Regions from separate parts of the Homo sapiens genome. Here all the other regions are linked to region 3. The links come from fine-mapping of genetic effects on gene expression. A gene starts in region 3. Each other region holds a variant in brackets. All regions are shown on one strand. Distances are between the middles of the regions. Region 1 overlaps PAX7 (paired box 7). Region 2 overlaps PAX7 (paired box 7). Region 3 holds the start of PAX7 (paired box 7).

The links.
Region 1: its variant is fine-mapped to the expression of PAX7 in prefrontal cortex (BrainSeq, PIP 0.95).
Region 2: its variant is fine-mapped to the expression of PAX7 in prefrontal cortex (CommonMind, PIP 0.95).

Annotation. Positions count from the first base shown.
Region 1 is chr1:18,701,811-18,704,563 of GRCh38, forward strand. PAX7 (paired box 7) reads left to right here. Exons shown (of 9, transcript NM_001135254.2): 7 at 1,284-1,486. Among named protein-coding and RNA genes, the nearest start is that of PAX7, 72 kb to the left of the region's middle. The variant G/A (reference allele first, on the strand shown) is at 1,182.
Region 2 is chr1:18,698,112-18,700,864 of GRCh38, forward strand. PAX7 (paired box 7) reads left to right here. Exons shown (of 9, transcript NM_001135254.2): 6 at 2,542-2,707. Among named protein-coding and RNA genes, the nearest start is that of PAX7, 69 kb to the left of the region's middle. The variant A/AT (reference allele first, on the strand shown) is at 1,453.
Region 3 is chr1:18,629,464-18,632,216 of GRCh38, forward strand. It overlaps PAX7 (paired box 7), which reads left to right and starts at 1,383. Exons shown (of 9, transcript NM_001135254.2): 1 at 1,383-2,225. The coding sequence starts at 2,141. RefSeq lists promoters at 1,067-1,852, 1,256-2,166, 1,890-2,166 and enhancers at 2,706-2,753, 2,714-2,753.

The DNA of each region.
Region 1 (2,753 bases), 72 kb after region 3:
TCCCTTCTAGCGCTGGAAAGGGATAGGCAGAGGGAAGAAGGTGAGTGGGTGAGAGAGGATAGGGGATCAGGGGGCCTTGGGAGAGGAAAGGAAAGTCTGGGTCTCAGGAGAGAAGGTGAGCCTTGTAGGGGAAGAAGGGTTCCCTCCCCCTACCTCACCGGAACTTGCTCTCATTCTGTCACCCCAGAAGCCCTGTCCCAGCACACACCAGGAATACCACTACTTGATATTGGCCTCATGGGCTGGGCGCAGTGGCTCACAACTGCAATCCCAGCACTTTGGGAGGCTGAGGCGGGCGGATCTCTTGAGGCCAGGAGTTGGAGACCAGCCTGGCCAACATGTGAAACTCCATCTCTACTAAAAATACAAAAAAAAAAAATTATCTGGGCATGGTGGCGTGCATCTGTAATCCCAGCTACTCAGGAGGCTGAGGCAGGGGAATCGCTTGAACCCGGGAGGCGGAGGTTGCACGGAGCCCAGATCGCGCCACTGCACTCCAGCCTGGGCGACAGAGTGAGACTCCATCTCAAAAAAAAAATTAAATTTTAAAAAAGATAGCTACCTCATAAAGCCTCCTCTTAAATGACTGGCAGGCTGGAGTTCTGGAGGCCAAGGAAAGAGTCAAAGAGCCCCCTCCAGCACCACTGTGACTTGGTAAGATAAATTGAACCAGTGTTGAGGGTCCCAGCCTCTGCAAAGCTGCACAGAAGGGCCCAGAGAGCGCAGAATAACAGCCTAGCAGCAAAGAACAGAGATGGCTCCAGAGTTAGGCCATTCAAATCCTGGTCCCATCACTCACTAGCCTGGTCATCTTGTGTGAGTGCCCCAAGCCCACCAAGCCTTGGTTTCTTCATCTGTAAAATGGGATTTACAGTCTTGCTTCATACCCTTAGGCAGCGTTTGTAAAAGCACCTGGCAAGTGGTTGACGCTCACAAAACAAAACAGACTGGGTAGATTAACAGAGTCCCCATCAAGGTCTGGTTTTCAGCCCAGCTGACATTTATTGAGCACCTACTGTGTGCCAAGCACTGAGGAACAGTGGCTGGTGTGCACCTGTCTAGGGGTTGTCTAGAATGTTGGGTTGTCAGTCAAGACCTGGCCAGTGCCTACTGCCCTGCCCAGGAGCCAACTTGTCTCATCCCAGGTAGCATGAGAGGGTGGTCCCTTCCCTCCAAGGAAT[G/A]GAGACCGGGAGGAGGAGTCTCTTGGCTTGCCTTCTGCTCTCAGAGGCCCAGCGTCCAGGATGAGGCCACTTGCTTAGGACCTCTCTTGGGTCTCTCTACAGATGGGGGCAGCACTGTGCACCGGCCTCAGCCCCTGCCACCGTCCACCATGCACCAGGGCGGGCTGGCTGCAGCGGCTGCAGCCGCCGACACCAGCTCTGCCTACGGAGCCCGCCACAGCTTCTCCAGCTACTCTGACAGCTTCATGAATCCGGCGGCGCCCTCCAACCACATGAACCCGGTCAGCAACGGCCTGTCTCCTCAGGTAGGTGGTCTCAGCCCAGCACCCAGGATCCCACCGCCACGAAAGTCAGACATCTGCAGACAGCACGTGGGTGGAAGCCTTGCGCTCTTTCCTGTAGCAGGCTGACTGCGGTTGGGGTTTTTGTTCTAGAATCAGGAATCCTCCCTGGACTCTGTCCTGTGCTCTTGGCTTTTCACCAGGAGTGACCAATTCCTGAAAGGCAGGACCATGTCCTATTGGTGGAGAGAATTGTGGATGGGGTTCTGGGCCGGTAACTCTACCCTGATTGGTCAATGGAATTCTGTTTGCTCCTGTGTGATTGGTTAAGTCATTCATTGCCTCGGGGTGCTGTTAGAAGTCACAGGACCTGCTTTGGATGAAGTCAGAGAGATAATGTGGGCGCTGATGGTGGTTATTGGTGAGTTTGGGGAACAGGACTTGATAATGCCGGAAGTCCCAATGAACTTGAGGAACTGATGGGCTCATTTTTTTGTAGCTTCAGCAGGCTCCCAAATATCCGTGGGGGAAGGGATGAAGTGCCCCCTGCCACATGTCTGTGGTGAGAATCCACTGCACATGATCCAAACTGATCTGAAGAGCCATAGTGTGGCAGAACAGTGAAGCCTGTGGAATGGGTCTAAATCCCAGCTCTACTGCTCAGGGGTCTCTGAGGCAAGTCAGCATCTGTGAGCCTCAGTTTATCCCCTATTAAACAAAGAGAGTCTGTAACTAACGTCTCAACAAGAGGTGCTTGCCACATTCAATATGCTAACAGGTCAGAGCACCTAGCCCAGAGCCTGGCACGAAATCAGTGCCAAGTAAATATTAGTTCTCTGGCCCTCCCAGTGTCAGGACAATGTAATTAATATGGGAAACCCATTACCTAAAAGGAGAATAGAAAGAATTCAAAGAAGGCCAGCAAGCTACATCCTGCGGGCCACATCTGTCCAGCTCCCTGTTTTTTGTAAATAAAGTTTTATTGGAATACAGCCATGTCCATTTATGTATGGTGGCTTTTTTGCCACCACAGCAGAATTGAGTAGTTTTAAAAGAGATCATATAAGGCCGAGCGTGGTGGCTCACACCTGTAATCCCAGCACTTTGGGAGGCCGAGGCGGGTGGATCACCTGAGGTCAAGAGTTCGAGACCAGCCTGGCCAGTACGGTGAAACTTTGTCTCTACAGCAATACAAAAATTAGCCAGGCATGATGGCAGGTGCCTGTAATTTCAGCTACTTGGGAGGCTGAGGCGAGAGAATCGCTTGAACCTGGGAGACAGAGGTTGCAGT
Region 2 (2,753 bases), 69 kb after region 3:
AACTACAGTGGCATATCCCAAATGCCCATCGCTCTCCCACCCACCCAAGATGTTCGCCACCTTCACCTATTATCTATATTGTTATTTACTTTTCAACGAAATCAAGTGTTTTAAAATAAAAATGCACAACACTCCCATAAAGGGAAGGCAATTGTTAAAATACACACACACACACACACACACACACACACTACACACAAAGGAAAACAAAACAACATGATTAAAGCCTTTCAGGAAAATGTCACCTGCAAACGCCTCCTCTCCCTGCATTCAGAAGGGAGATTGGCACAGGTTAGAAAGGCACTGAGGATGCATTAGCACCAAACTGAGACCCCTCTTCCCCCCTTCTCCATGCCCAGGAGGCCTGGGAGAGAAGTGGAATGGAATAACTTTCCCATCCTCATGTCCAGGTTATTGAATTCTGTTTCTCCAACAGGGAGCAGTGGCAGGAGGCCCACTGTTTGGGAAACACTGAATTAGTACAAAGACCTCCTCACACCCTTCCCGCAGAGCCTGGAAGCTCGGAGGCAAGGCCATTCCTTGCAGGGCTCCCTCCAGCATCCCTGCCACTCCAGGGTGCCCCGGGGAAACCCTCGGCGCCCTGTGGAAGTGGGGAGAAGCCAGGGCTTTGAATCCATCGGGAGCCAGTCGTTTTTCCTCCAGGCTTGGCTGCCTCCTCTCCCTTTCTCTGTGAAACCTCAACAGGTGAAAGCCGGCAGCTCTTGTTTATCCAGCCTGCAAGCTGAACGCTGCTTTTCCCACCCGGGAAGGATGGCTCTAGGGGTGCATAAGCGCCCTCCACCTGGCTGCATTCCCCTCCCCCATCTCAGCAGACACGGCCCAGAGATTTGGGGGTCTTGGGTGATCAGGTGCCAGGGGAGGTGGCGGCCTTCACCCCCCATCAGGATGGAACACCAACCAAGCCTTGTAGCCCCAGCCCCAGCAAAGGCACCCCAGTGCCAATCCTGCCTCCCCTTGTTCATTCATTCATTCGTCATTCACTCCTTCATTCATTCAACAAGTATTCCTTGAACACTTACTGAGCTCCAGGCATTGGGCAAGGAATGCATGGCCTCTGTCCCGTGGAGCCTGAGTCTGAGGGGGACATTAGGAGCAGCACAGCCAAGAAACAGATATATAGAATCATTGATCCTGTGGGGAAGCACACAGGTAGGAGGCCCACCTGACAGAAGGCAGAGAACCTACCTGAACCCACCTTAGATGCGGCAATTAAGGAGTAGGAGTAGGAGGAAGCATTTCAGCTGAGCTCTGAAGGCCAAAGAGCCAGCTGCAGGAAGAGTGTTCAGGGGAGAGGGAACAGCATGTGCAAAGCTGAAGGTGGAAAAGAGCCCCCTCAAGGCAGCCCCAGTGTGCACCCTCATTCTCCTCTTTCTCTGACCTGTCCCAGGAAACTTGCAAATCCAGATAAGTGGGCTCTAGAAAGCCAGACTG[A/AT]TTTTTTTTTTTTTTTGAGGCAGAGTCTCGCTTGTCGCCCAGGCTGGAGTGCAGTGGCGTGATCTCAGCTCACTGCAAGCTCTGCCTCCCGGGTTCACGCCATTCTCCTGCCTCAGCCTCCCGACTAGCTGGGACTACAGGCGCCCACCACCATGCCCGGCTAATTTTTTTGTATTTTTAGTAGAGACAGGGTTTCACCTTATTAGCCAGGATGGTCTCAATCTCCTGACCTCGTGATCCGCCCGCCTCGGCCTCCCAAAGTGCTGGGATTACAGGTGTGAGCCGCTGCGCCCGGCCAGACTGATTTTAAGTTTGAACCTCAGCTCCAACACAGACTAGCTGTGTGGACTTGGGCAAGCAACTTGACCTCTGTGAGCCTTGGTTTCCCCTTCTGTAAAATGGGAATAGGAGAATACGTCTCATGGGTCTATGTATGGATTGATACGTGAAGTGCCAGCACAGGAAGGGGAGACAAAAATGTTGGGTTATTATCCCACTAATGTTTGATAAATCCGTGTGTGTGTGTGTGTGTGTGTGTGTGTGTGTGTGTGTGTTTCCTATTTCAAGGAGGCCCAGGGTGTGTAAGCAAAGTAGGGCCTCAGTCTCCAGAGAAAGAACCCGGCTTGCACATCTGGGTCTGAAGTGCAGGTCTCATTCAGGTGGGTTGCAGATGCGTGGCTTCCTCCTGGGGGGCTTCCTGGAGGAGGTGGTCAAGCAGGGCACCAGCATCCCTCCAGGAAGGAGCAGCTGCAGAGGAAAGAGCACTGGCCTGAGAGCCACACAGGACTGGCTGGACCACTGACTCAACCTGGCCCATGGACAAGTCACCCACTTTCTTTGGGTCTTGGTTTCCTCATCTGTAAAATGGGGATAATATAGAACCCCCTCACTGGTGGTTGTGAGGGCAGAATGGGGTCATACCTATGAAATCACTCTGCAAAGCGTCCTGTGCTGCACAATGCCGGGGCCTGCAGGAGGATGCTGGCTGGATCAGAGGGTGATGGCTTGGGCAACTGGGTCTACATGTGTTGCAGCTCTCTGCCAGGAACCTGGCCGAGGGGTCTCCATTCTCTGCTCTCCACCTCCCAGGTCTGGTTCAGTAACCGCCGCGCCCGTTGGCGTAAGCAGGCAGGAGCCAACCAGCTGGCGGCGTTCAACCACCTTCTGCCAGGAGGCTTCCCACCCACCGGCATGCCCACGCTGCCCCCCTACCAGCTGCCGGACTCCACCTACCCCACCACCACCATCTCCCAAGGTGAGTGTCTTGGCCCCGTCCTGCCATCTCAGTGGTGCCCCTTCCC
Region 3 (2,753 bases):
CAAGTTTTTCATCAGGGCCCCCATTCCCAGAAGGCCCCCCCAAAATCTGATGAGCCCCTTGTGCTAGGAGAGTGGGGAGAGGAGGGAGATCTGTCACATGCTGCAAGGGGCAAAGGTCACAGGTGAGGCGAAGGGGAGGGATGGGGACACCCTGGGGCCAGCCAGCGGTGAGCGCCCCAGGCTAAGACAAGGCTGACCCCACTGCCGAGAGAGGGCGGGCAGGGGGTGAGATTGAGGGCTGGGTTCATTTTATTGTATTTTGCCTCCAGCGTGGGGCCAGAGACGCTCTTTCCCCCGGGAGACAAAAGGCCTGCAGTTGTGGCGTCCTGCCCCGCTGGGAGGGCGTTTCGCCCCCAGGACTCGGTGTCCCGAGGTTGAGGCTACTGGTCACCCTGGCTTCAGAAAGCGAAGAATTCAGGAACCTCTGATCACCCCACCCTGACTCCTGATCATTCAGTTGGGGCGTCCCCTCAAACCCACCAGCAAGGAGCTCAGAGTTGGTGAGTTCAGAGCTGTATCAAGTCTTGACGGGCTCCCTCCCTCCCATTTCCCACCTCTTTGGGCCCCCAGATCCTCACACCAGCACCAACTCCCTGTAAACCCAACTACCTGCTGGAAAGGAGTTATAGGCCCGGCCTGGGGGCCTGAGGAGGACGGCGGCGGCTGGAGACGTCTGCACGGGGCGGAACTGGAAGGGGAGGAAGAAACCTGTGCCTAGCACTTGGCAGACCCACTTTGCCAAGCCTCGGAACCAGATACGGTTACTGGGGGCTTCTCAGAGCGGCAGGAAGGTAGAGTAAGAACCGGACACCGGGGCTCTGACATTACACAGAAAAGGTCAGAATTCCTCCCTTCAAGTCACCCTAGGCCGGTTCCCGGGGAGCCTCACTGGAGGAATTTCAGAGGGTGTAAGACGAGGGAGAAGATGAGAAATAGGGCGGACTCTGGCCCTCGGAGGCCAGAGAAAAGGCGAGACTCCAGAGAGGCGCCGGACCCGAGGCAGACATTCCCATACAGCCGGGACTCCGAGAGCAGCCGTGGGCGACCTGGGGGCCGGGGACTCGGCGGATCCGGCCCATTCATCAAAGGAAGGCACTGGGACAAAGTTGGCCCCCTCCCCTTCTCCCCCAGCCCCCAACTCGCCGGGATCGGCTCCCTCTCTTTTCACGGCGGTTCAAATTCTCCCCCAAAACGAGGTCGAGCCGGGGATTAGAAAAGAGGGAAAAAAATATTCGTTGGCGATTTCTTTTCGTTATTGGTCCTCCGCTCCCTTGCGCCCTGGCCCCCTTCCCTCCTCATGAATAAAAGAAAAGTCCGAACCTATCAGATCGCGCTCACTGCCTCCTCCTCCTCCTCCTCCTCCTCCTCCTCGTACTTCGGTGAACACTTTTGCACAACTTACCCAGCTGATCACTCGCGCCCCCTCGCTTTTCCATTTCTCTTTCCCCAACCCCGTCACCCCCTGTCTCCTCCGTCCAGCCCTGAAACCCGAGGAGGCTCCTTCTTCCGTCTGTCCCCGGGTCTCCTAGGGGACGGGGCTGTGAAAGCTGGTGTGGAGGGAGAAGCGAGTGTGGTCCGGAGAAAGAAGGCGTGGAGAAGAGGGAGGGAGCGAGAGCGAGAGAATAAATATATAAATAAATACGAGAACGAAATCCACTCCGCAGTCTCCGGGCTCGGAAACTTTGGCCCCGAGCGCCAGAGCGCCAGAGCGCGAGAGCGCGGCGCTCGCCACTCTGAGGCTGGCGGCCTCGATTCCGGCCGCGTTCCCCCGGCCCCCCTCCGCCGCGGGGCCTGGTCTCCGGGTTCTGCCAGGCGCATCAGCCCGCACAACTTCTGGCCGAGGCCAGCCGGCAGAGGCGGACTTGGGGTTGGAGTGTTTGTTTGTTTGAACTTCCTCGTCGTCGCCACCTTCCCTCCCCCCAACCTCCACCCCACCTCACCCCCCTCCCCAGCTTCTGGACGCGTTTGACTGCAGCCAGGGGTGGGGGGTGGGGGTAGGGAGTGTGTGTGGAGGGGAGGGAGAAGAGGTTAAAAAAAAGAAGACGAAGAAGACGGAAAGAAAGAGATCGCAGCAGGGGTGAAGGGAGCGGACGGGAAGCGATTTTTGCCGACTTTGGATTCGTCCCCGGCGTGCGCAAGAATGGCGGCCCTTCCCGGCACGGTACCGAGAATGATGCGGCCGGCTCCGGGGCAGAACTACCCCCGCACGGGATTCCCTTTGGAAGGTAAGAACGCCCAGGCTGGCCTCGCCGCGACTCCGCCGCCCGGAACTCGGGGTCCTTGGAGAGGCTGCGGTCTCCAGGGGACGGTGGCGGCGCCGGCGATAGCAGAGGGATCCCGTTCTCTTCTGGGTCCCAGTCCGGGCGCGGAACCCAGGGAGTTTCTGGGACCCATACTTGTCCGCTTCTGCGTGGGTTTCACTGCCCGGCGGCCTTCGTTTCGCAGGTCGCTAGCTGCCGGTCTTTACCCGCAGGGCTGAAATTCTGGTAGATTTGGACTCCTAGTAAATATCAGGTCCTGGTGAATTTCAGCTCTTTCCACTATTTCCAGACACTTCTTCCCTGACAGTTTCTCGGCTCTCCTGGCTCGCTGGCTGCCAGCTTTCTACTCTTGTTTTGAATTATTTTTTCCACCCCCGGGATTGGTCTTCCAGTCCTTTATTTCGAACCACCTACCATGGGTGATACTTTATATGCCTCAACTACCACGGCTATCCATTTCTTCCGAAGCCACAGTCAAACACTCCTGCTTTT